Linked DNA regions of Homo sapiens: region 2 is linked to region 1. Evidence: fine-mapped expression QTL. A gene starts in region 1. The other region holds a variant in brackets. All regions are shown on one strand. Distances are between the middles of the regions.

The links.
Region 2: its variant is fine-mapped to the expression of GNA13 in whole blood (INTERVAL, PIP above 0.99).

Annotation. Positions count from the first base shown.
Region 1 is chr17:65,052,524-65,060,523 of GRCh38, reverse strand. GNA13 (G protein subunit alpha 13) reads left to right here and starts at 3,784. Exons shown (of 4, transcript NM_006572.6): 1 at 3,784-4,213; 2 at 6,796-7,022. The coding sequence starts at 3,931. RefSeq lists silencers at 3,497-4,006, 4,287-4,546.
Region 2 is chr17:64,959,279-64,976,030 of GRCh38, reverse strand. LOC107985000 (a long non-coding RNA gene) reads left to right here and starts at 13,267. Exons shown (of 3, transcript XR_001752973.3): 1 at 13,267-16,752. It also overlaps the pseudogene AMZ2P1. RefSeq lists silencers at 137-206, 577-776, 1,326-1,620, 9,795-9,958 and enhancers at 1-396, 10,178-10,227. The variant T/C (reference allele first, on the strand shown) is at 9,066.

The DNA of each region.
Region 1 (8,000 bases):
TATGCAGGTTTGTTATACAGGTAAACTGCTCATCTCGAGTTTGGTGTACAGATTATTTAGTCACTCAGGTAATAAGTATAGTATGCGATATGTTTTTTGTTTTGTTTCGTTTTGTTTTGGTTTTTGAGACGGAGTTTCGCTCTTGCTGCCCAGGCTAGAGTGCAATGGCGTGATCTCGGCTCACTGCAACCTCCGCCTCCCAGGTTCAAACAATTCTCCTGTCTCAGCCTCCTGAGGAGCTGGGATTACAGGCGCGTGCCACCATGCCCGCCTAATTTTTGGTATTTTTAGTAGAGATGGGGTTTCATCATATTGGCCAGGCTGGTCTCAAACTCCTGACCTCAGGTGATCCGCCCGCCTCGGCCTCCGAAAAGTGCTGGGATTACAGGTGTGAACCACTGCACCCGACCAGGTATTTTTTTTTTAATCCTCTCCCTCCTCCTGCCTTCCACCCTCAAGTAGGTCCCAGTGTCTGTTGTTCCCCTCTTTGTGTCTTGTTTTTTAGAGATAGGGTCTCACTCTGTCACACAGACTTAGAGTTCAGTGGCATGATCATAGCTCACTGTAGCCTTGAGCTCCTGCATTTAAGCAATCTTCCTGCCTCAGCCTCCTGAGTAGCTAGAACTACAGCTATGTGCCACCACATCTGGCTATTTTTTTTTTTTTTTTTTTGAGACAGGGTCTGGCTCTGTTCCCCAGGCTGAAGTGCAGTGGTGCAATTTTGGCTCACTGCAGCCTCCGCTTCCTGGACTCAAGCGATTTTCCCACCTCAGCCTTCTGAGTAGCTAGGACCACAGGTGCACACCGCCTTCCCCTACTTTTTATATATTTTTTTGTAGACAGGGTTTCACCATGTTGCCCAGGCTGCTCTTAAACTCCTGGCTTAAGTGTTTGGATTACAGGCGTGAACCACTGCAGCCGGCTAATCTCTTGGCTACCATAAATGGTGCTGCCATGAACGTGGGTATACAAGTTTTTGTTTGAACACTGTTTTCAATTCTTTTTAGTATTTTGGGGGGTATACCCAGGATAAAATTACTGGGTCATATGGCAATTCTATGTTCACCTCTTTGAGAAACCACCAAGTCTCTAACTCATTTTTATGTTTACAATTTACAAGGTGTCTTGATCACCAGTTAGAAGAAGCTGGACAGCTGCAGCCAAACCCCTAGGTTGGACCCAAAGAGGTCTCTTTTTCTTTCTTTCATTCATTCATTCTTTTTCTTTTTTTTTTTTTTTGAGACAGAGAGTCTCACTCTGTCACCCATGCTGGAGTGCAGTGGCCTGATCTCGGCTCACTGCAACCTCCGCCTCCCACGTTCAAGCAATTCTCCTGCCTCAGCCTCCCGAGTAGCTGGGACTACAAGCGCCCACCACCACTCCCCACTAATTTTTGTATTTTTAGTAGAGATGAAGTTTCGCCATGTTGGCCAGGCTGGTCTCGAACTCCTGGGCTCAAGTCATCTGCCTGCATCAGCCTCCCAAAGTGCTGGGATTACAGGCATGAGCTACTGTGCCCGGCCTTCTTTTTCTTTCTTTCTTCCTTCCTCCTTCCTCCTTCTTCTTCTTCTTCCTTCATTTGACTTTCAGGTCAAAGAGGTCTCTTTTTAAAAACTACACTGACTAGAACAGCCAGACTTGATGTGAGCCAAGTTTGTTCCAAGGCAAGCTTACACGCAGGGCTTTAAACAGCTTTCTCTGCTGCTCTGCATGTCACGACATGAACTGGCTGGGCAGGAATACCTTCCTGCCTCCTAGGCATTCTTGGTTTTCCATTATATTACACACACTTCTGAAAAAAGATGTTAACTACCTAACTTACAAGTTTCTCTCCTCTTTGTTGGAGTTCAGATTAGCACCTGGGGTCAATGCAGAAACAGTGCTCGGGGACAGGTTCTATGCCCCAATCCTGGGAGAGGCGAGTCCTTGCATGGTTAGAGAACAGGGCCTCCCAAACACTAGATGAGATGATGGAAAAATTCTCCATCCAGGGCAGGCTTTTACCATATATTTTGCCTGACAGCACTGCTCAGTGATTCTGACTCTTATCAATCCACAGATATTGGAGGTGAGCCTACTCTACTTGTATATTGTAGGTTGTCCACCCTCTGGGCTTGCCAGAGCCACAGGAGATAATCCTACTACAGGCATTGTTTACTGCAGCCAATCTACTGAGTCGAGGCTTCTCGGTCATTAACCCAACCCCAGGGAGTAACTGATTAGTACCGATTTTAAAATTTAAACCTGTTCGGGAGTTTCTTGGAATGCTGACCTCTTACCTCCGCTCCCTTATACATACGAAGTTTCTGAGCCACAGGAGCCCAAAGCTACGTTGCATTGCCCAAAACAGGGACAGACCAAAGTGGCTTTTTCCACTTGAAACTAAATACTAAGAATGAAGAGGTCGGCTCTCGGGGGTCCCGGTTAAGCAGTTTCTCTGCCAACCCACAGCTGTCACTTGTGGCTTGTCTCCTGGCCTCCTTTCAGGTGTCCTGGCCTGAATCTGCTGTTAGGACAGAAAAAAAGTCCCTGGACGGGTCATATCCTCTGTAATCTGGCAGGAAAGCTAAAATTTGCGTGCTCCCATTCCTCGTTGTGTTTGTGTATCTGCTTCCTTGTTGGGAAGAGCCTACATCACAGTGTCCGGTGTAGGGGATTTTCACCATGACCTCACCCTCCTGCTGCCACTCGCTAATTCCGGCGCGGCCAAGCGTCCCTGAAGTCACATCACAGCCCAGGTGGAATGCACGAGTGAGCCATTAAATGCCCCTGGTAGCACGTCTCAAGTGAACATCAACTCCAGTTCTTTCCCCTCACAGAGAGCCCTGGTAGGGGTCTGAAAATGCCAGAAAGAGCTGGAAGTGGGGGTGGACGACGTCTGGTTACCGTTCTGGGATTCGGAGACTAGAAGGTCAAGGGAGTCACTTTAAGAAAACACACCAGGCCTGGGCCTGGTGGCTCTGTCTGGAATCCCCGCACTGTGGGAGGCCGAGGCTAGAGGATCGCTTGAGCTCAGGAGTTCGAGACCAGCCTGGGCAACATAGGGGGGAGCCCCTGTATCTAAAAATAAATACAAAAAATTTAGCCGGGTATGATGGCACACGCCTGTACTCCCAGCTACTCGGGAGGCTGAGGCGGAAGGATGGCTTGAACCTGGGAGGCGGAGGTTGCAGTGAGTCGAGATCGAGCCAATGCACTCCAGCCTGGGCGACAGGGTGAGACTCCGTCTCAAAAGAGAAAAAATAAAATGAAATAAAGAAAATGCACCAAAGGCCTGCCAGGCTCACGCCGGCTGTTCTGTTCGAATAACTTTCGAGTCCGTGGCCTCGAAATGGGTCGGGTGGGCGGTGACAGCGGGCAGCGGGCGCGCAACGCGGGAGAAAGGGAGGCTAAGTGGGAGCCCAAAGAACCGCGTCCGGGACCTGGTCTCCGGCCTCCCGGCCTTGGGGAAGGAGCCCTTCTGCCCACAAGTGGGCTCAGGCCATGAAAGGGAAACAGAAAGTCGGGCTCCCCAGCCTGGCCCACGTGACCGCGGTTCCTCAGCCCTCCCCGCGCGCCCGGCCGCGGCTGCGGGCGCGGGCACCCGAGCGACACATCGAGCTCGTGACTCGCCGCCCAGGGCGGGAGGCGGAGAAGCGGCCGCGGCGTGCGAGCGCGCCTCCGGGAGGCAGCGGGAGCGCGCACGCTCCGGGGCCACCGCCCCTCCGGGGCCGGGCCCGCCCTCCTTCCCTCCCTCCCTCCCCCGCTGTCCTGGCCCGCCCTGCCCGGCCCGCCCTGCGAGTCAGTTCGCTGGTTCCCTCCCTCCCTGGGCGCGCTCGGGCCGCCGCCGCGCTCCCCGCCCTCGAGCCTCGGTGCCGGAGCCGCCCGCCGCCGGAGGAGGAGGTGGAGGGAGCCGGAGGGGCCCGCCGAGGCGGCGGCGGCGGCGGCAAGATGGCGGACTTCCTGCCGTCGCGGTCCGTGCTGTCCGTGTGCTTCCCCGGCTGCCTGCTGACGAGTGGCGAGGCCGAGCAGCAACGCAAGTCCAAGGAGATCGACAAATGCCTGTCTCGGGAAAAGACCTATGTGAAGCGGCTGGTGAAGATCCTGCTGCTGGGCGCGGGCGAGAGCGGCAAGTCCACCTTCCTGAAGCAGATGCGGATCATCCACGGGCAGGACTTCGACCAGCGCGCGCGCGAGGAGTTCCGCCCCACCATCTACAGCAACGTGATCAAAGGTGCCGGGCCGGGAATGGGGGCCGGGGGTTAAGGGCAGGGGGGCTGGGGCGGCGGCGGGTGCGGGGCGGGGCACCGCCCTGGTCCGCTGTGTCGCTGGCGAAGGAACGGGCCCGGCGGGCGGGCTGGCGGGAAGGGGGCGCGCCCCGGCAACTGGCCCTGCCCGCCCGGGGTGCCCTCGCGCCCCAGGGCGAGAGGATGCTCGGGGTCGCCCTGCTCTCCCGCTTGTCTCCCCGGTGGGCGTCACGGCCATTCCCCCACCCCCCACCGCGTCCTGGTCTCTCCCCCTGCGAGAGGGAAGTGGGGCGAGCTGGGTGCTGCCTCGGGGTGTGGGCAGACCTCTCCTGTCCTCCCCGCTGCGGATGAGGCAGGAACACCAATAGCAGCCCTAGCCGCTTCACCCCCATCCCCTGCTCGGGCGATGTGGGCCGAACCTCGCTACCCTGGCTGGGTGACCCGAGTCACATGGGGTCGCATGCGCTCCCAACTCCCTGCTTCCTTGGCCGTCTCCTAAGCAAGCGAGTTCTGGAACCGTCGCAATAAGGGAACTTTTTGCCCGAGACTTCTTGTCAAGGGCGTAGGGTGACAGCCTCCTTTTGGGCGAGAATATGAAACTTGAGGAGTGTCAGGTTGACTGTACTGGAATCAGGAGAGAGTGGACCCATACAGTTAGCATGAAAATGTAGCATCTGTGCTTTTTCGCCCCAGTGTCACGGTCAGGTAGGATGTTTGCGTGTGATTTCTGTGCAACACGTTCCACTCTCCTTTTCGCTAAGTAACTGGGGGCTGGCAGGAAGGGAGTACCACTGCTTCTATTTAGATGAAATGTAGTAGTAAGAAGACTGGCCTAAAAGTCATGTGGATCCTGTACAGATGGAGACAATGAATGAGTGTTGAGTTAGATAATTGGCTCGGCTCTTTATTGACAGTAGTTTTAAAATTAAACTTTGTTCTTAAGTGAAAAATAAACAAGTTGTTTATTTCTGGGCATTCAAAGAAATCGAAAAGATGGTTTTTATTTTGTCATTTGAAAGATAATTAACACTCGTTTCTGCGTGTCAAGTATGTTCTATAGAAAAGGCATTTTGGCAAAATTTAGGTGCAGCGCCTGGTAACTCAGGTGCATCTGGATTTTATTTTATCTGGGGAGCAGTTTAGGAGTTTGCTACAGATTGCAGGTCTTTTTAAGTGGGATTTTTGTTCAGGAAGTACATAAGGGACTTCTGCATGTCACCCCCCCGCCCCCTCCCCGCCAACCGCCTCCCGAGCTTCCAGCGTTTGGGTAAAGGAAAACTGCCTGAAGAGCCAGGCATTATGGAGTAATGAATTAGAGAGAATCACTAGACCACAGCCAGCTCTAGCCCTAGTACCTCTGCAGTTAAACTATAAAGAACAGTTGTATTTATCCTGCTGTAATGTTTAGCTCAAAACTAATTAAGGTCTCTTTCAAGGCTGCAGACTCTGCCTTGACAGTCCTTAATTGAAGGTACCTTTGTAACCTGATGCAGCTGAACTTAAGGAATTATGTTAATGAATAGCATCAACATGTTAACTGACTGTGAGCCTGGTAAACACCTCGTTCTTAATGTACACTGAGTTGTAAGTGTGATCTACGTTGAGCATTGATTATGAGATGATGTAAGTCATCAGGAATCTAGTTTTTTCAAGTTGACATGAAATTTGACAGTAGAACAGTTTCTCAGGCTGGGCGTGGTGGCTCACTCCTGCAATCCCAGCACTTTGGGAGGCCAAAGTGGGAGGATGGCTTGAGCCCAGGAGTTCCAGACCAGCTGGGCTACATAGCCAGACCTCGTCTCTATTAAAAAACAAAAACAAAAAAACCCCACCCGTTTTTCAGTTATTCAGATGACTTCCTAATAGCCAAGTGACTGTTCAGATTGATCAAACTTAATAAAAGTAATAGATCAGTGATAGGAAAAATGAGTTTCAACTAACCTCTGTGAGTTGGAGTCCGACTTTGTATTATTTTGCAGTTGATCTTCCTCCCTTTTAGGGAAATTGAAGGCCATCCTGTAACTTAAACTGGATTGAAACTTGGGCTGGAAGAAGTTTTTAAATTTTGAATGTGTTGCTAGAAGACTCAATGTTGGGTTAGGGTGCCGAAGCAACAAACAGAACATGGAGCTATAGTAGTTGGTTCTTAGTGTTTCATAAATGAACATCTTTTAGGCTCATAAAACCTTGGTTGTGTCTGTTTTCTTCTGAGCTTGGACATTGTTGGTCTGTGCAGCATAACTTCTTTTTCTTTCTTGAGTTAGATTGTTTTTTGACTACCTTCTATCCTAGAAGTTATTTTATAAATTGGAACATGTTAAAAATCCTTCAGAGAGAGGAATTGTGCTAATAGTATTTGCTTTTCAAGGCTCTAATTTTAAGACAGTGAGCAACTGTTATTTTTTTTAACCTCTGAGAAGTTACATTTGTTTTCGATGTTGGTCTTCATTTTTGAAGAAGGTTTGTCTAGGTTAATTCAGAAGTATAAGGAAATAATACTGGAATAAAAACTTATGATAATATGTAATGACTCCTCTCCATACATTTTTTTTCTTCTTTTTAAACAAAGGTATGAGGGTGCTGGTTGATGCTCGAGAGAAGCTTCATATTCCCTGGGGAGACAACTCAAACCAACAACATGGAGATAAGATGATGTCGTTTGATACCCGGGCCCCCATGGCAGCCCAAGGAATGGTGGAAACAAGGGTTTTCTTACAATATCTTCCTGCTATAAGAGCATTATGGGCAGACAGCGGCATACAGAATGCCTATGACCGGCGTCGAGAATTTCAACTGGTAAGAGATTTGCTCTTTTAAAACGTGTGGTTTTATTTTAATGATGTTTAGTAATACAGGTTGCACATCCCTAATGCGAAAATTCGAAATGTTCCCAAATCTAAAAGTATTTGAGATGGAGGAACAGACTGAAAGGCTAAGGCACAGACCTAATGTGTCCTAGTCTCTAATGACTACGTGTAAAAATAGTGTATAAAATTACCTTTAGGCTACATATCTTAAGGTATATATGAAACATAAATGAATTTCTAGTTTAGACTTGAGTCCCATTCCCAGCATATCTCATATGTATGCAGATATTTCAAAAATCTGAAAAAATTCAAAATCCAAAACACTTCTGGTCCCAGGCATTCGGATAAGGGACACTCAACCTGTATCTGATTTTAGCACACTTTTTTCACTGACTTCCATAATTTAATGTATCTATCCAAAATTATAGCCTCAGAAATTTGTTTTTTTGTTTTTGGGGGGTTTGTTTTGAGACGGAGTCTCTGTTGCCCAGGCTGGAGTGCAGTGGTGTGATCTTGGCCCACTGCAACCTCTGCCCCCAGGGTTCAAGCAACTCTCCTGCCTCAGCCTCCTGTGTAGCTGGGTCTATAGGCGCGTGCCACCACACCTAGCTAATTTTTGTCTTTTTAGTAGAGGCAGTTTCGCCATGTTGGCCAGGCTGATCTTGAACTCCTGACCTCAGGTAATGTGCCCACTTTGACCTCCCAAATTGCTGGCATTGTGCCAGGCATTTTTCCCCTTTTTTCTTTAACGAGACTACCCATAAAATGCTTTGTAGCTGTTACACAGCATTGAAGACAGGTTTGGAATAAAAGTATCCAATCCAGGTTAAAGATACAGAATACAGTTGAAACAAATTTTTAATCAAGTGTTTTGTAATTTAACTGTGAATGCTGTGATTGGGTTTTATTTGCCAAAGATCAGAAAGATTCCAGCAGTGATAGAAATCTAGACTGTGTGCAATTTGGA
Region 2 (16,752 bases), 89 kb after region 1:
TTGGGTGACTGCCCCAGGGAGCGCCGCGGCTGTACGACAACCTGCGGCGGCCGCCGACTCATTTGGGGGCTACGCTGGTTGCATTCGTCACGCCGGGACGCCTCTCAAACCCGCGGCCTGCCGAGCACGTTCCCACACGGGCGACCCTGGTGACGCGGGCGCGTCTGTGGCTCTGGAGAACCAGGCCGCGGAGCCCCGGCGAGGGCAGACGGGGAACTGGCGACTGCGGGGGCGGACGGCTGGGGCTTGTAGTCCCCTCGTGACCCTCTACTCAGGAAAAGGCGAGCCGCGGCCGCCGAACTCCAGCTCTGGCGCGCTCAGGGGCGTGGCGCGGGCGGGTCGTGAGTGGGGCGGGGCCCAGAGAGCGTGTGCGATGGAGCGGCGCGTCGCGCGGCGCGAAGGGGCGTGGCGCCAGTGGGCGTGGCGTAGTGCGAAGAGACGCGGTGCGCACGCGCGTGAGGGATGTCGCGGGTGAGTGGTGTCGAGGCCTGTTGGGTCAGGGCGGTTCGCAGGTGCTGTCAGAGCTGGGCGGGGCAGCCGGGTCGTAGAGGCGGGCGCCAGTCGCGGTCGGTGGAGAGGGATGAGGATGTAGGAGGGACGGACGTGGCGGAAGCCGCGGGGACTGCGGGGGCGGAGTGCCTCTGGGGAGCCAGGGAGGCCTTTCCAGAGGCTCCTGGGGGAAGAAGAGGCGAAGCGAGAGTCCCCGGGGAAGCCCTACTCCACCCCCAGCCGGAGCCTGGGTTGTGCCTGCACGGACCAGAGCCCACAGTGCGAGTTGCTGTAGGCAACCAGCTAGGGTGGCCAACTTCTCCCGGTTGGCCCGAGATGTTCTGGTTTTGGGACCACAGCGTCCCAGGCCTCCAGCCCACCACAGTGACCATATTGTGCGCCCCCTGCCCATCTTCTCCCGCAGCTTCCCTAGATTAGGCTTGGGAGGCAAGGGGAGGCCTCCTGACTTTTCTCACTGCCTTCGTTAATATAAAGATGAAGGCACACTCCACAACTTCCTTCTGGCCAGGCCCAGACATGTCTGTCCTTGTGAGATAAAAGCTTCCATGGGAGCCTTCCTTCCTAATCAAGGTAGGTAGACCACTGGAAGGTACATCTGGTTTTATATTTTGTCCTGTAGAAGTCAGATTTCAGCCCAGTTGTGTAGGAGTGAGGATGAGCTTATGCTCTTATCAGAGCTTTGAGTACAGAGACATTTGATCTGGAATTTCAGCCAGCCTCTTCAACCCCAGAATTCAGAGGTTCAATCAGAACAGACATTAGCTTAAGTTTTCCCATCAGTTGTCTATCATTAAACTGGCAAAATCTAGATAATTAGAAAATATGACAGAGATGATCCAGACAGAGATGTTCAGGTTTTTCCTTGTGTAATTCAAAAAGTCTCGTGGTGGAACATCTGACCCTTTTCAAGAGGAAGGATGAAAACTCTACATAGGAACACGATGTGAATGGAAGAAACCTGTCATTGTGAGTCTGGCTTTTGATTAGTCATCTGATGTCTTCCCTAATGTGATGTGACTAAGCCGTAGCTTCTCAGCCTGCAGTTAAATTGCAGAAATGATAGGGCTTACATTAGTTTTGTTTTTATTTGATGTTGAAGATCTTTGAGTCACACTAGAAACGAGGAGTATTTTTCATGTGGCACTAATGAGTTAATTCATAATATGATTTTTTGAGACAAAGTCTCTGTTGCCCAGGCTGGAGTGCAGTGGCACGATCACAGCCCACTGCAGCCTCGACCTCCTGGGCTCAGATGATCCTCCCACCTTAGCCTCCCAAGTAGCTGGGACTACAAGTGCACACCACCATGCCCGGCTAATTTTTTTGTAGATATGGGGTTTTGCCATGATGCCCAGGCTGATCTCAAACTCCTAGGCTCAAGTAATCCTTCTGCCTTGGCTTCCCAAAGTGCTGGGATTATAAGCATGAGCCACCATGCCAGGCCAATATTATTCCCCAAAAGAAGGAAATTGGGTGTGAGGTCCTGCTCCTATGGTCACCATGAGATTTTTTTGTTTGTTTTGGACTCTTGCCCAGGCTGGAGTGCAGTGGCACGATCATGGCTCACTGCAACCTCAGCCTCCCTGGTAGCTAGGACCACAGGTGTGCACCACTATGCCCAGGGAATTTTTAAGTTTTTTGTAGAGACAGGGTCTCACCATGTTGCCCAAGCTGTTCTCAAACTCCTGGCCTCAAGCAGTCCTCCTATCCCAAAGTGCTGAAATTACAGGCATGAGCCACCACGCCTGGCCACCACTAGTTTTTGTAATGGGAGCAGGTTCCATATGAGATGGAGGAATGGATTTCATGATTGTCTTTGTAATTTCTTAGGTCCCCAAGAAATTGATTGGACATGAGGAAACCACTCTAAGTGTGACCACTCTAAAGCATTAGCAGTCAGTCATTTCACTCTAGGGAGAAATCAGAGCTGTATATGGAGAATAGGTAAAGTCCCCAATATGGATATGTATTTTTATATTTGACTGCTTGTATTTTTTTGTTAGATGCAAATAGTACGGTATTCCGAACAGACACTAAAAATAGCTGTCATCTCAAAGAATCCAGTGCTTGTGTCACAGTATGAGAAAGTAGATGCTGGGGAACAGCGTTTAATGAATGAAGCATTCCAGCCAGCCAGTGATCTCTTTGGACCTTGCATTCTCCATCAGATTGGATCACCTCCCACCCTGAGGCCCCCCAAGACTTTGAACAGTTCTTCAGTCATCCTTACAGAAAGATACCCTCTCCAGACAAACGCAGTATTTATATACGGTCCATTGGTAAATACTGGTAATGTGCTAGTTTTGGTTCGGTTTTGCAATGGTTCTGTTGTCAGGAATAGTCCGGGCTATTGGTCTGATTCAGATGGGCCATTTTAGGATCATTTTTGATATTCATTGCAATGGTACAAGTTTTGTAGCCAAACAGACCTAGAACATTTTTTTTTAATTCATATCAACACCGATGAATGTTAAAGGTGTATTGAAAATTTAGAGTTGGTTTTGTTTCTAATTTGAATCCTCTTACTCATAGACTGGGTAAACACTGAATAATCGTCTTAAAGTCTGTTTTTAAATGTTCTTCCATATTATAGGATCTCTATGAAGCACCAGAATTATCAGTGAAGAATATATTAAATGGCTCACGGGCTACTGTAAAGCATATTTCTATCGCTTGAGAGTAAAACTGCTAGAACCAGTTCCTGTTTCTACAACAAGGTGTTCCTTTAGAGTCAATGAGAACACACAAAACCTACAAATTCATGCAGGTGAATTACACAACTTTGCAATTTGAACTGAGTAAAGGAAGCATATGTATATAATATACACTCATACATTTATGTATTTCTTCTTAAATAGGGGACATCCTGAAGTTCTTGAAAAAGAAGAAACCTGAAGATGCCTTCTGTGTTGTGGGAATAACAATGATTGATCTTTACCCAAGAGACTTGTGGAATTTTGTCTTTGGACAGGCCTCTTTGACAGATGGTATTCCGTTTTTGGCATTGTTGTTAGAAGCTTCTTCAACTTGAGAATATTTGAAGATGTTAAAAGAGGGAAAAAAATTCCAACCAAGAATCATATTGATATTTAAAACTATAGTATTTTCAGTTGAGACATTATGCCATAATGGGAAGTGTGCTGTTGGTAGATTGTGATAATCTAGGTTCTGGTTGGCCACTCACTACCTACAGGACCTTAAAGGTAACAATACCCACATCATGGAGTCATTTGGAGATAATTTACATAAAAGTGCCTGTACATAAAAAGTGTGGATAAGCCTGGACAACATAGTGAGACTACATGTCTACAAAAAATAAAAATTAAAAAAACTAAATTAGCTGGGCATGGTGGCACACACCTGTAGTCCTAGCTATGCAGGAGGCTGAGGCGAGAGGATTGCTTGAGCCCAGGAGGTTGAGGCTGCAGTGAGCCGTGATCGCACCACTGTACTCCAGCCTGGGCAATAAATTGAGACCGTGTCTCAAAAAAAAAAAAGCATATATAGGCCTGGCACATATATAGGCATTCAGCATAACAGCTAGTAAACGTCAGTAATTCAGTAGCAAGGTGAATTAAGCCAATTACAGTTTGAGCTATCATTAATGGATGTGAAAATCTTGCTAATTGTTTTTCAATTCTTTTCATAGTCATCTTGCACAGTTAGGATAGCCATAGACTAAGTGTTGCTTCTTTCTCATCATACGACATTTGTTTTTTGTTTGTTTTTTAATTTAAAAAGTAAAAACTTCCATCTTTGATTTGAGATACATAGTAAACATTGACTCATTAGGAACTCTGCATGGTAATATTGGGGATGGGAAAGGTTCACGAAACAGGTTATATTTTTAACCTTTTTTTGTCATCTCTCTACTTCTCCCCTCCCCTTCATTTTTGCTCTTACTTCTCTAACTTCATCCCCAATAATCCAAGACAGACTTGAAAGGGAAAAGGCCCCCTAAGGGGAGTGGTTCATTAGTGTTCTGGGGATGGGGAGTAAGTACAGGGACTATCCTGAGAGTTTATGGTCTGTCTGGATGTTACATTAGCCTTAGGATTTGTGTGGGGTGGTAAGCTTTTTGGGACAAATGTTTCTACTAGAGGTGGGGGCTGTAGGGCTATAGAGCCTCTTCCCACTTACTCGTTTATTCTTTATTCTCCATTTATGTGAGGTTTACTTGTGGCCCCCCATGGCCCTACCAACATGCAGTCTTGGAGACGTGGGTCACTACTCTCTTACTGATTTTGGTGGTGTGAGGTAGCTTTTTATCATAAGTTTTCTCTCTTATTATTAACCTGATAGAGACGGAAACATTAAAAATTAATTTTATCTACCTTTCATTTTTCTTTTGATACAGGGTCTCCCTCTATCACCCAGGCTGATCATGGGTCACTGCAACCTCAGCCTCCTGGGCTGAAGGGATCCTCCTGCCTCGCCTCAGCCTCCTGAGTAGCTGGGACCACAGGACCACCACACCCAGCTATTTTATTTTATTTTTTTTGTCGAGATGGGATCTCCCTGTGTTGCTCAAGCTCATCTTGAATTCCTGGGCTCAAGCGAGCCTCCCACCTCAGCCTCCCAAAGTGCTTTGATAAAAGGTGTGAGTCACCACACCCAGCTAAAAAAATAATTTTCAAACCATATGTTCGTTTATCTAGATATTACTAGCTAACTTATCTTATGTATTTGAGGAGGTCAGGAAACATTTCCCCAAACTGTTTTTACTTTAATTCTTTTTTTTGTAAGTTTCTTAAATATTACATGACATGAAAGATTTACATAGGAAAGTGGCAGGATTAGACAGTGACAATATCTTAACACAGTGGTCTTGTTTTCTCCAAGTTTACAAAGATTCATATTTTTAAATTGAGAAGCATTGACTACGAAAGAAAATAATCTTCTATTTGTAGGATTATTGGAAGAAAGAAATGTCCTTGCTGAAAGTATTACTGTAGTGAAATATGCTCACACTTGATTGGCCAGAGGGGGTTACTTGTGATACATGAATAGATTTAGTGTTTTCTTAACTTCTAGAATGCTATTTTCCCTAATTTTCGAATATCAGTCCACATTTTCTGGGTAAAGGGAGGTGAGGAAGTTGTTTTTGAATCAAATTAGATTGAACAAACCTACCATGGGTTATTTTCTTTAAAAATTTATTACTTTAAAATAAAAACTGAACGAGAGACATAAATAAAAGTGATCATGTAAACAAGTCGAATTGTGAAGCAGTACCCTGTAGGGTGAGTTACGTAGCAAACCGTGTTCTCTGTGCTTGCAGAGATGGTTGATATAACTCTAAATGTAACACAGGAAGTCAGTTACAAGGGTATTTATTCTGGTCACCAGACACTAGTGACAGAATAGAGTTGAGCTGCTCTTTAAAAAGGGGGTGGGGGTGGGGAAGGGGACGAGGTTATTCTGTCTAAAGCCGTGGTTTAAAGCATGGGCTTCAAGACATCAGGGCAGTTGTCCTCAGTCAGTGCTGCGTGAGGGAAGGCCAGCAACCCCTCCAGGCACACGTGTAACAGATCTGTTTAGCGTGTCCTTAAAGAGTGAAATCATGACTGCCTATTGTTGATGTGATTTATTTTATTTTATTTGTTTATTTATTTATTTATTTATTGAGATGGAGTCTCGCTCTGTCGCCAGGCTGGAGTGCAATGGCGGGATCTCGGCTCACTGCAACTCCGCCTCCCGGGTTCAAGCCATTTTCCTGCCTCAACCTCCTGAGTAGCTGGGATTATAGGCGCCTACCATCATGCCTGGCAAATTTTTGTATTTTTGTAGAGACAGGATTTCACCATGTTAGCCAGGCTGGTCTTGAACTCCTGACCTCAGGTGATCCGCCCACCTTGGCCTCCCAAAGTGCTGGGATTGCAGGCATGAGCCACCATGCCTGACCCATGTGATTAGTTTTTGTGGTTCCTTTTTGAGTACTTGATTTGGAGTACTTGCTACTTTCAGAAAAAGACTTCTTTTGTGGGAAAAGACTCTGAAACTTCAGTTTCTCAAGTATTTGACCTCCAGCCCATTAAGTTTTACAAGACAAGGCATGGTGGATAGCAGCAAAGGATTTTGATAGGGAAATCTGGGGCTTCTTCCACTTGGAAGAAGCTGACCGGCGCCCTCTAAACCTTTGCCCTATCTGTTTGCACAAGTTGCAGTGTGCTGTTATTGGCTTCAGCATTGTAGAAAGATATAAAGTAAGTTGAGGGATGGATAGTGTAAAGAGGGGGAAGTGGTTATCTGAGTAGCAAACTGATGTATCTATTATATCCTTCTCTAGAGTTATAATTTATCAGAGGAAATTAGTGTAAAGATAAGCAGGAAGCTGTGGTTTAAAAACATGCGAAGAAATGCCCTTCTTAAAAACTTCAGCTTGCCTTAGAGTGATTTATGCTTACAGTTCAATGAGAAATAGTGGAAGAAATTTTCTGCTTCTCTTCCATTTAGGGCAAGAGAGCTTGACTTTGCAAAACTGAATAAATATTGATATGTGTGGCAAAGTTCATTTTTTAAACCCTATAAGTGTGAGGACAGGATTTATCTTTCCAAATATGGGACAGAGGTATGATGTTCATTAGGAGGAAAAAAGTGATTTTCTTTAAAAAGGAAGAAGGAAAGTACCTAATCTCAGTATGTGTGTGTGTGCCCACACTTGCCCACAAACATCAATATACATTCATGTGTTTACTCATGGGTATGACTGCATTCAGGTGACTGCACAGAAATGTCTACACATGTGTTTTCACATACATATGTCTACCCATGCCTGTGTGGACACTTATATATGTATATACATACATGTCAAATTAATATAATGCCTTGTAGAATATTCAGCAAGTTGAGAAAAAATATCCTATCATGCTAGAAACAAAGTATAAGAATGAGTGTATTTCTTTTTCATCTTTTTTCAGTGCGTACTTTTGACATCATTTGTAATTCTGTGTGTATTTGGTACGTGCCATTTCACTCAGTATATCATTAGCATTATTCATATTCACAGCATCATTATCAAATGCAGCGTCTTCATGGGGTAATATGTCACCCTATGATCTAGAAGCCAATGCTTCTCTCTTGCCTGATGGTATTTTGCTGTGGTTTGTTGAAGTGCGCATCTTTCAATGCTTTTCCAGGCACTGGTGAGGTGGATTGATGATGAATCTTCTGGCACACCTGGAGCAACTCCAGAACACAGTCGTGAGGATAATGGGAATTTACTGAAACCCGTGGAAGGAAGCCTTTAAGGAATGGAAAGAGTGGATAATAAAATGCCTGACTGTTCTCCAAAAATAAGGACCTTCAAATAGGAGTGATTGAAATAAATGACTACTTGCATGTTATGCTTTCATTTGGGTGGAATACTTCATCAGAATAAACTATTGATCTTGTGCTGTGTCAAAGTAACAGACTAGAACCTTCTTTCAAGTACCTGAATTGAAATGAAACTCATTTTGAATAATAAAAACTCTAGAAACTCTTTATCTTCTCATCTTACTGGCCTGGTCTGTGGCAGCAAGCACATTATTTCCATTCCCCAAATATGTTTAGGTCTCCCAAGAAAGCTGGGACTGGCGGTAATGAGCAAGTAAATAACTTGAAAAAGAACTGTAGATGCCCCAAGGAACCAACCAACATAATTTCCAGGGGGTGATTTTGTTTTTAGAAGAGCTGCTCCCCTCTGTTAGGGCCAGCCAAGTCACATTTTTGGACGTCCGTGGACTCTGATCACCACAGCCCTCCTCTTCCGTGAGCCTTCCTTACTCTCTCGAGTGCATTAGCTCATTTTTTTTCTTTTGCTGGTTGTCACCTTATTCCTGTTTTAGTTTTTAGCAGCTTAAAATACGACCTCTCAGGAATATTTGCAAGTGAAAATAACAATGGTCCTTACACTACCACAACATTTGGTGGTGGGAGTTCCGTTGCAGGTCTCAGCTATAACATAGTCATTTATGAGGGATCTTACAAATAGTGTGTAATGGTATTTATATTTGTGAGTGTTACACTTTCTCTATAGACTTAGAGCAGCTTTCAGGTTTATTTCAGTAATAATGTCTTTCTCACCTTCTCACATTGTGAAGTGTTTACCTGAGTCAGGGAGAGAGTTTAATGGGGTTATCTGTCGGGGTGCCATGAATGCTGATGATGGTCTGCAGGTTGTGAACATCAGCCCCATTGCTACAGGGGTGGACAGGTGGAAAAGCTCAGACTTGACAAACCACCTCTGCTAGATAGATGTGTCTTGGAAATCCAGAAATTACAGTGAATATTTTATGGAATGCCAGTGAGCAGACAGCATTTCCCACTTTCCTATCTTACCTTGAGGGTAAGACTTAAAGGTATTTTTTTTTCTTGTAATTTGAAGCCTAAATTCTTTGATTGTTTGATGTATGCAATATGATGTAAGGCACATTTTATACCCCTAGTCAGTGGTTTCCCTTGGATTCATTCTCCTACTTGATTGAACCCATTTAAGTCATTTTAGGAAATGGTGGTTTGCTATTAAAATTAATTGGAGAGAATACTTGGTCATTCTGTTAGCAAAAAGAGAC[T/C]GATGGAGCATGGTGTTTTATGGATTCTGTTACAGGGCTTATTCCTCCTTGAATAATGTGCTTTAAAAATTATTGTCCATTCGATTACATTTTCTTTTATTTTCCTACAATGTAAGCACGGTTTTAGTCCTGTAGGTCAGCCTTTCTCACAAACTCTTTTGAACTAAGATTTGCCTAGGTGAATAAATTGGGGATGACGGTTGTCTGGAGAAGATATAAGGTCCATTTGTGAATACTCTGCACTATGAGACCAGGAGAAAAATCATCTAAGAAATCGTTCACTCTTGCTAAAAACTGAACTAAATTTTATATGATGCATTTATTCAGCAATCATAAGTGCTGTGCATAACTATTGTACATATTTTTGGACAATTTCTTAGGGTTCAGCTTAAAAATATAATTTGCCTACTGCAACTAAATTTTATGTACTGTGGTTAAATCTTTGTAGTTTTAGAAGATAATTTTCACTAAATAAATCCAAGCAGATTTTGCTCTGCAAATGCTGAATGAAGTATTGAACTAATAAAAAGGATTAATAATTTTCTACTGTCTAAATAATCTTAGAAATCAGTGAATTTGATTCATTTATGTCGTAGATCCTGATCCCGTTTACCTGTGGAGTTAATATCTCTCCAGTCAAGAGATTTTTCAGGCCTCAGACTTTTAATGGTGAGGGTTAAATAGAAGAATTTGGCGAGGATTACCCGTCGGTTCTTGTCCAGCTTGCTTTTTGAAGCACACATTCCCCTGATATGAATAATTTACATTTCAAGCCCTACGAGGGACAGAGGGCCGCGTTGCTCCCTCTAGGGAGCAGCAGTGCTAAAATCGAAGCAGGCAGCTGCGGGACCGCTATAGCCGGCCCTGCGCTCGGGCCCTTCCCGGGCAGGAAACGCGTCGCTGTCCCCGGCTGCGCCCAGGCCAGCGGGCACAGCAGCTGCGAACCGCCGGCGCACCACCTGTTTCCGCGCCCGGGGACTTCCCCGGCGGGGCTCAGAAGTGTGGGGTCGGTCGCTTGGCTTCCCCTGGCGTCGGCGACCCAGGGTAACCTCCTCCACTGCTGCGTGCCGTGCAGGCCTGCCTGTGTGAGAGCCACGTGTGCCGCGCTCTGGGCACAGCCTTGGAAAGTCAGGACCGCGACGGCAGCAGAGCAGTGAGTGGAATTAATTCTCAAGTAGAGCATTTAAAAAGTGCTTCATTGAAGAGTTTGAATCTCAGTCACTTTGTAGATTCGGATATCTAGAATGGCACCGTCCAATAGAAATATAATACAAGCCACCTATGTAAGCTTAATGTTTCTAGTAGTCGTATTAGCAAATGCATAAAGAAGCAGGTGGAGTTAATTTTAATAGTATATTCTATTTAATCCAGTGCATCCAAAATATTATTTCAATCAATATCAATGCTGAATATTTTATATCCTTTTTTTTTTTACCGTCTTCAAATTCCTGTATGTATGTTACACTTGCAGTACGTCTTACTTCCAACTGGCCACATTTTCAAGTGCTCAACAGCCCCATGTGGCTTGTGGCTACTGTATTGGACAGTGCAGCTCTAGAGCAGTACCCAACTCTAGTGTACCTGGAAAAATGTACCCGTGGTATTGAGTTACTAGGAGAGGAAGGCTTATTTCAGGAAAAGGTCATGTAAATCTTCTGTCAGTACAGCCGGTGCTGACATTCAAGCTGAAAGGGTGTATGTAGACACCGTTTAATGTCTACATTAAAGGCCTCTGGCTTCGGTGTTAACTTGTTTCTTTAAAAGCTTGATACTGTTCTCTGTTGCAGCTTGTTTTTTACCCTCCCGTCTTCATTTTCAAGGGCCTGGTATTGTCTTCAAATGCATTTCCATTTTTGGAAAGCGGAGTCGTAAAGCATTAATAATGTGGAGATTGTTTAGTCCATTTCATGCATGAGGACACAAGCCTGCAGCAGCCGAGTAAACTTGCGTGTCATGTAACCAATGGCAAAAATGGGATCAGATCCCAATTCTCCCTAATGCTGAGTTATTCGTTATTTTCACTGTGCTACATGACCTCATTGAAGTAAAATATCACCGGCGAGAACCTAACCATTTTTCCCCCAGGTTGTTTACAAGGGATTATACACGATTAAACTTTCAATTTCTTTTCTGTTCAAGTAGAGCCATCTGGGGTTGCTCAAAGTTGGAGAAATCAGTCTATGTACAGTTCTGCCTTAGTACCAAAAAAAGAGAGGTGCGATATTTATTTATTTATGAAATAGGGTCTCGCTCTGTTGCCCAGGCTGGAGTGCAGTGGCATGATCACGGCTCACTGGAGCCTCCACCTCCCATAGTCAAGTGGTCCTCCCACCTCAGCCTCCCAAGTAGCTGGGATTACAGGTGTGCACCACCATGCCCGGTGTATTTTTTTTATTTTTAATTTTTAGAGATGGGATTTTTTCCACATTGTCCAGGCTGGTCTGGAACTCCTGAGCTCAAGCAATCTGCCTGCCTTGGTCTCCCAAAGTGCTGGGATTACTGACGTGAGCCACCGTGCCCCGCCAAGAGTTGCAATATTTAGTAAAGCTCTTGCGACTAGTTGAGGCATTAAAAGAAAGCATTATGAAAAAAAATGTCTACTGGAAAATAGTTAAAACAAAATCTATTGGGGCAATATGTTCAAACTCACAGACTGCCATACTTAACCCAGTATTGATTTCATCCCACTGTTTTCTTTAGTGTCTGCTCATGGATCAGTTTTTTCTTCTTTACAACTGACCCACCCATGTAGTACACTACTGCTGGGCAGTCTGAGATCCATCCATCCTCAGATGCTGAACCGGTGGGTTCTCGGCACAGTGCTTTCAGTGTCCTGTGGTTATCCAGCTGTTTCATAGCAGCAAAGACTCTCTTGAGCTGTAACTGTCAATAGATATCTTTTTCTTCTCTTGTGTAACTAAAGGGGAAAAAAGTCTATAACTCATTCATTCATGTATTTTTCATTCAACAATATTCATGGAGCACCACCTACTGGGTGCCAGGCCCTGCTCAAAGCCTTGGGAATACAGCAGTGAACAAAGAACTCCTACCCTAATACACTAGTGGATGAGACAGAGAGTCAAGGAGTAAACAGATGCTTTATTTTATTTTTATTTTTAATTTTTTTTGAGACAGAGTTTTGCTCTGTCATCCAGGCTAGAGTGCAGTGGTGTGATCTTGGCTCACTATATCCTCTGCCTCCTGGGCTCAAGTGGTCCTCCCGCCTCAGCTTCCCAAGTAGCTGGGAGTACAGGCACGTGCCACCGCACCTGGCTAATTTTTGTACTTTTTGTAGAGAGGAGTTTTACCATGTTGACCAGGCTGGTCTCAAACTCCTGGGCTCAAGCAGTCTGCCCACCTTAGCCTCCCAAAGTGGATGCTGTTATAACCTAATGTCAAAGTAAACAAATAGAAACAAGTACCATTTTGAATAGGATAGACAGGAATGCCTCCCTAGGGAGGTAGCATTTGGAAGTGATCAAATTGAAGGGTCACACTGCATATACATCTCAGGCAAGGGAGTACCAAGCAAAGGAAACCACAAATGCCAAAGCCTGAAGCTTGCAACAAGAAGAACAATTCCAGAAACAATAAGAGAGGCTGGGTGTCGTGGCTCACACCTGTAATCTCAGCACTTCGGGAGACCGAGGCAGGCGGATCACCAGTTCAGGAGATTGAGACCATCATGGCTAACATGGCAAAACCCCATCTCTACTAAAAATACAAAAAAAAAAAAAAAAATTAGCCAGGCATGGTGGTGGGCACCTGTAATCTCAGCTATACTCGGGAGGCTGAGGCAGGAGAATCACTTGAACCCAGAGGTAGAAGTTGCAGTGAGCCAAGATTGTGCCTTTGCACTCCAGCCTGGGCAACAAGAGTGAAACTCCATCTCAAAAAAAAAAAAAAAGTGGGGGGGCTGGGCGTGGTGGCTCACGCCTGTAATCCCAACACTTTGGGAGGCCAAGGCGGGCGGATCATGAGGTCAGGAGATAGAAACCATCCTGGCTAACATAGTGAAACCCCGTCTCTATTAAAAATACAAAAAATTAGCCGGGCGTGGTGGCATGTGCCTGTAGTCCCAGCTACTTGGGAGGCTGAGGCAGGAGAATTGCTTGAACTTGGGAGGCAGAGGTTGCAGTGAGCCGAGATCATGCCACTGCACTCCAGCCTGGGCAACAGAGCGAGACTCTATCTCAAAAAAAAAAAAAAAAAAGCCAGTGGGGCTAGTATAACAGGAGCAGAGGGAAAAGAAATACCATCGGGCAGTTCACGCAGGGCTCATTGCCAAGGATTTATGTCAGACTTGTGCTGTAAGAAGATTACTCTGGCTACTGTATGGAAAATTAAGATGGGGTGGCATGTTGCAAGAGTGGAAGCAGGCAGGCCAGCTAGAAGACTACTGTAATAATCCAGCTAAGATGATATTGGCTTGGATCAAGGGTCCTGATGCAGTTGGCAGAAGCAGTCAGCTCCTGGATATATTTAGAAAGGAGAGCCGATTGGATGTGTGGAGGAGTGGGTTTGAGGAGGAAGATCCAGAGTTCTGCTGAGGACATTTTAAGTTGAAGATGCTTAGTTTATATCCATGCCCTGCCATGCAGGCAGATGTAAATCAGGAGCTCAGGGACAAAGTTGAGACTAAGAATGGGAGGTGTCGATGCAGAGAAGGTACTTAAAGTTTTGGTTGAATTCCAGGGTGTATAAGTTGTTAGGGAAGTTAGCGTGCTTGTTCTTGAGTTGCTGGAAAGGCATATAAATGACACAAATACATGGCCACAATATGTATTTTCTCAATAATATTTGGGGAAATGTTCTGGGCATCAGGTTTCCCGTCTAACTTTCCCTGTAGGAAACGGATAGTCATTGAAGTAATTTTGATTTGGGTGAGTTGTTACACGGATAGCGAAGTTGTAAGTTCTCTTGCCACTTTTCTTGTTCTGCACCTTTCGAGAGTCATTATGAGAACTGAACACTAGGGGGACCCAGTTTCCTTACTTATGCAACGGCGGCTGGCCCAGCTGTACGCTACGATCGCCCTCACTTAGGACACATGCAATATAAACACAAATCTGAAAACAAGGGCAGCTTCTCTTTTCTCAATGCAATGTATATTTATAGCAGTGATCATTTTTGCATGTAACATGTCTGAATTCCTTAAATAGGTCATTTTAAGTAATGTGCATAACCATTACAATTTTTCTTTTTTGAGACAGGTTCTCACTCTTTGCCAAGGCTGTGTGCAGTGGTGCCATCTGGACTCATTGCAACCTCTGCCCCCTGGGCTCAAGTGATCTTCCCACCTCAGCCTCTCGAGTAGCTGGGACCACAGGCATGAGCCACCACACCTGGCTAATTTTGGTTTCACCATGTGGCCCAGGCTGGTCTTGAACTCCTGAGCTCAAGCAATTCACTCACCTTGGCTTCCTGAAGTGCTGGGATTATAGGGATGAGCCACCACACCTGGCCACCGTTTAAAGATTTAAAGGCAATGGTTTCTAAACTCTAGTTCCTTGTGAGCCCCATATTTGCAAACTTGTGAAAATAAGGATCATGATTTCTTATTTTTTATTATTATTATTATTTTTGAGATGGAGTCTCACTCTGTTGCCCAGGCTTGGGTGCAGTGGCGCGATCTTGACTCACTGCAACCTCCACCTCCCAGGTTCAAGTGATTCTTCTGCCTCACCCTCCCAAGTAGCTGGGATTACAGGCGTGCACCAACATGCCCGGCTAATTTTTGTATTTTTAGTAGAGACAGGATTTCACCATGTTGGCTGGGCTGGTCTCGAACTCCTGACCTCAAGTGATCCACCCACCTCGGCCTCTCAAAGTGCTGGGTGGGATTACAGGTGTGAGCCACCATGCCCAGCTGAAGGATCATGATGATTTCTAATTTACAATAGTTGAATTGGAGTATGGAAATCTAAATCTAATAAATACCACCTGGTGATTTGAATCTGTGCCACAAGAATGCTGACATAGAATCCATTTTCTATTTTATCACCAGGTATTAAGCAAAGGGAAAGGCAAATAAATGCTCAAAAGCTACATTACATGCTATTGGAGTATAAAATGTATAACTTTGTTAAAAGGTTTGGACACATTTTGTATTAGTTACGGATACATAGGTCTTAAAAGAGTACATGATCTTAATTCTTTTTTTGAGACGGAGTTTCGCTCTTGTTGCCCAGGCTGGAGTGCAATGGCGCAATCTCGGCTCACTGCAACCTCCGTCTCCCGGGTTCAAGCAATTCTCCTGCCTCAGCCTCCCGAGTAGCTGGGATTATAGGCATGTGCCACCACGCCCGCCTAATTTTGTATTTTTAGTAGAGACGGGGTTTTTCCATGTTGGTCAGGCTGGTATTGAACTCCCGACCTCAGGCGATCCACCCGCCTCGGCCTCCCAAAGAGCTGGAATTATAGGCGTGAGCCACTGCGCCCGGCCCAACTCATTTTTATAACTAGAATAATTTTAGTTTTGGGGAGAGAAAGTCTACATAAGGTTTATACTGAAACTTCTTGAAGTCAACAATCTTAAAGCAGAATCTTTTTAATCAGGAGAAATGAAAACATAATTAACAGCCTGGTGTGGTGGAGGTGGAGGTTGCAGTGAGCCAAGATCGCACCACTGCACTCCAGCCTGGACAACAAGAGTGAAACTCCATCTCAGAAAAAAAAAAAGGAAAAAAAAAGAAAACATAATTAACAAATACGTTAGCTATAATGCCAAGCACGGTGGCTCACACCTGTAATCACAGCACTTTGGAAGGCCATGGTGGGCAGATCACTTGAGGTCAGGAGTTCAAGACCAGCCTGCCCAACATGGCAAAATCCTGTCTCCACTAAAAATACAAAAATTAGCTGGGTGTGGTGGTGCATGCCTGTAATCCCAGCTACTTGGGAGGCTGAGGCAGGAGAATTGCTTGAACTCGGGAGGTGGAGGTTGCAGTGAGCCAAGATCGTGCCACTGCACTCCAGCCGGGGTGACAGAGCAAGACTCTGTCTCAAAACAACAACAACGAAAAAGTGTTAGCTGCTTGATCTTTCCTATTTTGGGGCAGTTATGATCTAAGAATTACTTTGACCACAATGAATCCTTTCCCATGAGTCAGGACTGTTAGTTTTCAGAGCTTTGCTTCTGGTGGTACTGATCTGTGCCAGTGTTACAGATATGTGGTGAAGGAGCTAGAATTTTTTTTTTTTCAGCTTGAGAGCTAATTGTGTGTGTGTGTGTGTGTGTGTGTGTTTAACATTTTTATGTGATTGAAAAAATATATATTTCCTGTATGAAAATCTTGTGAAATTCACATTTCAGTATCCATAAATAAAATTCCATTGAAACATTGCCACATTCATTCATTTATATATTGTCTGTGGCTGCTTTTGACCCTCAATGGCAGAGTTGACTAGACAGAGGCCTCATGGCCTGCAAAGCTTTAAATATTTACTATCTGGACCTTTACAGAAAAAGTTTGCCAAACCCTGGCATGTAGAGTCTGTGCTGTTTACTTACAGGTTGCAACAGTTCTTGGAACGATTCTGTAACTGGTTGTAGTCTTTAACTATTTGCCGTTATGACTTTTGATAGGCTTACTCTGGCTACCATGATATCATTTCATTCATGTATTTTTCATTAATAATTAAATACCATCGCTGCTTTCATTCTTAATTCTTAGATGAAAACATG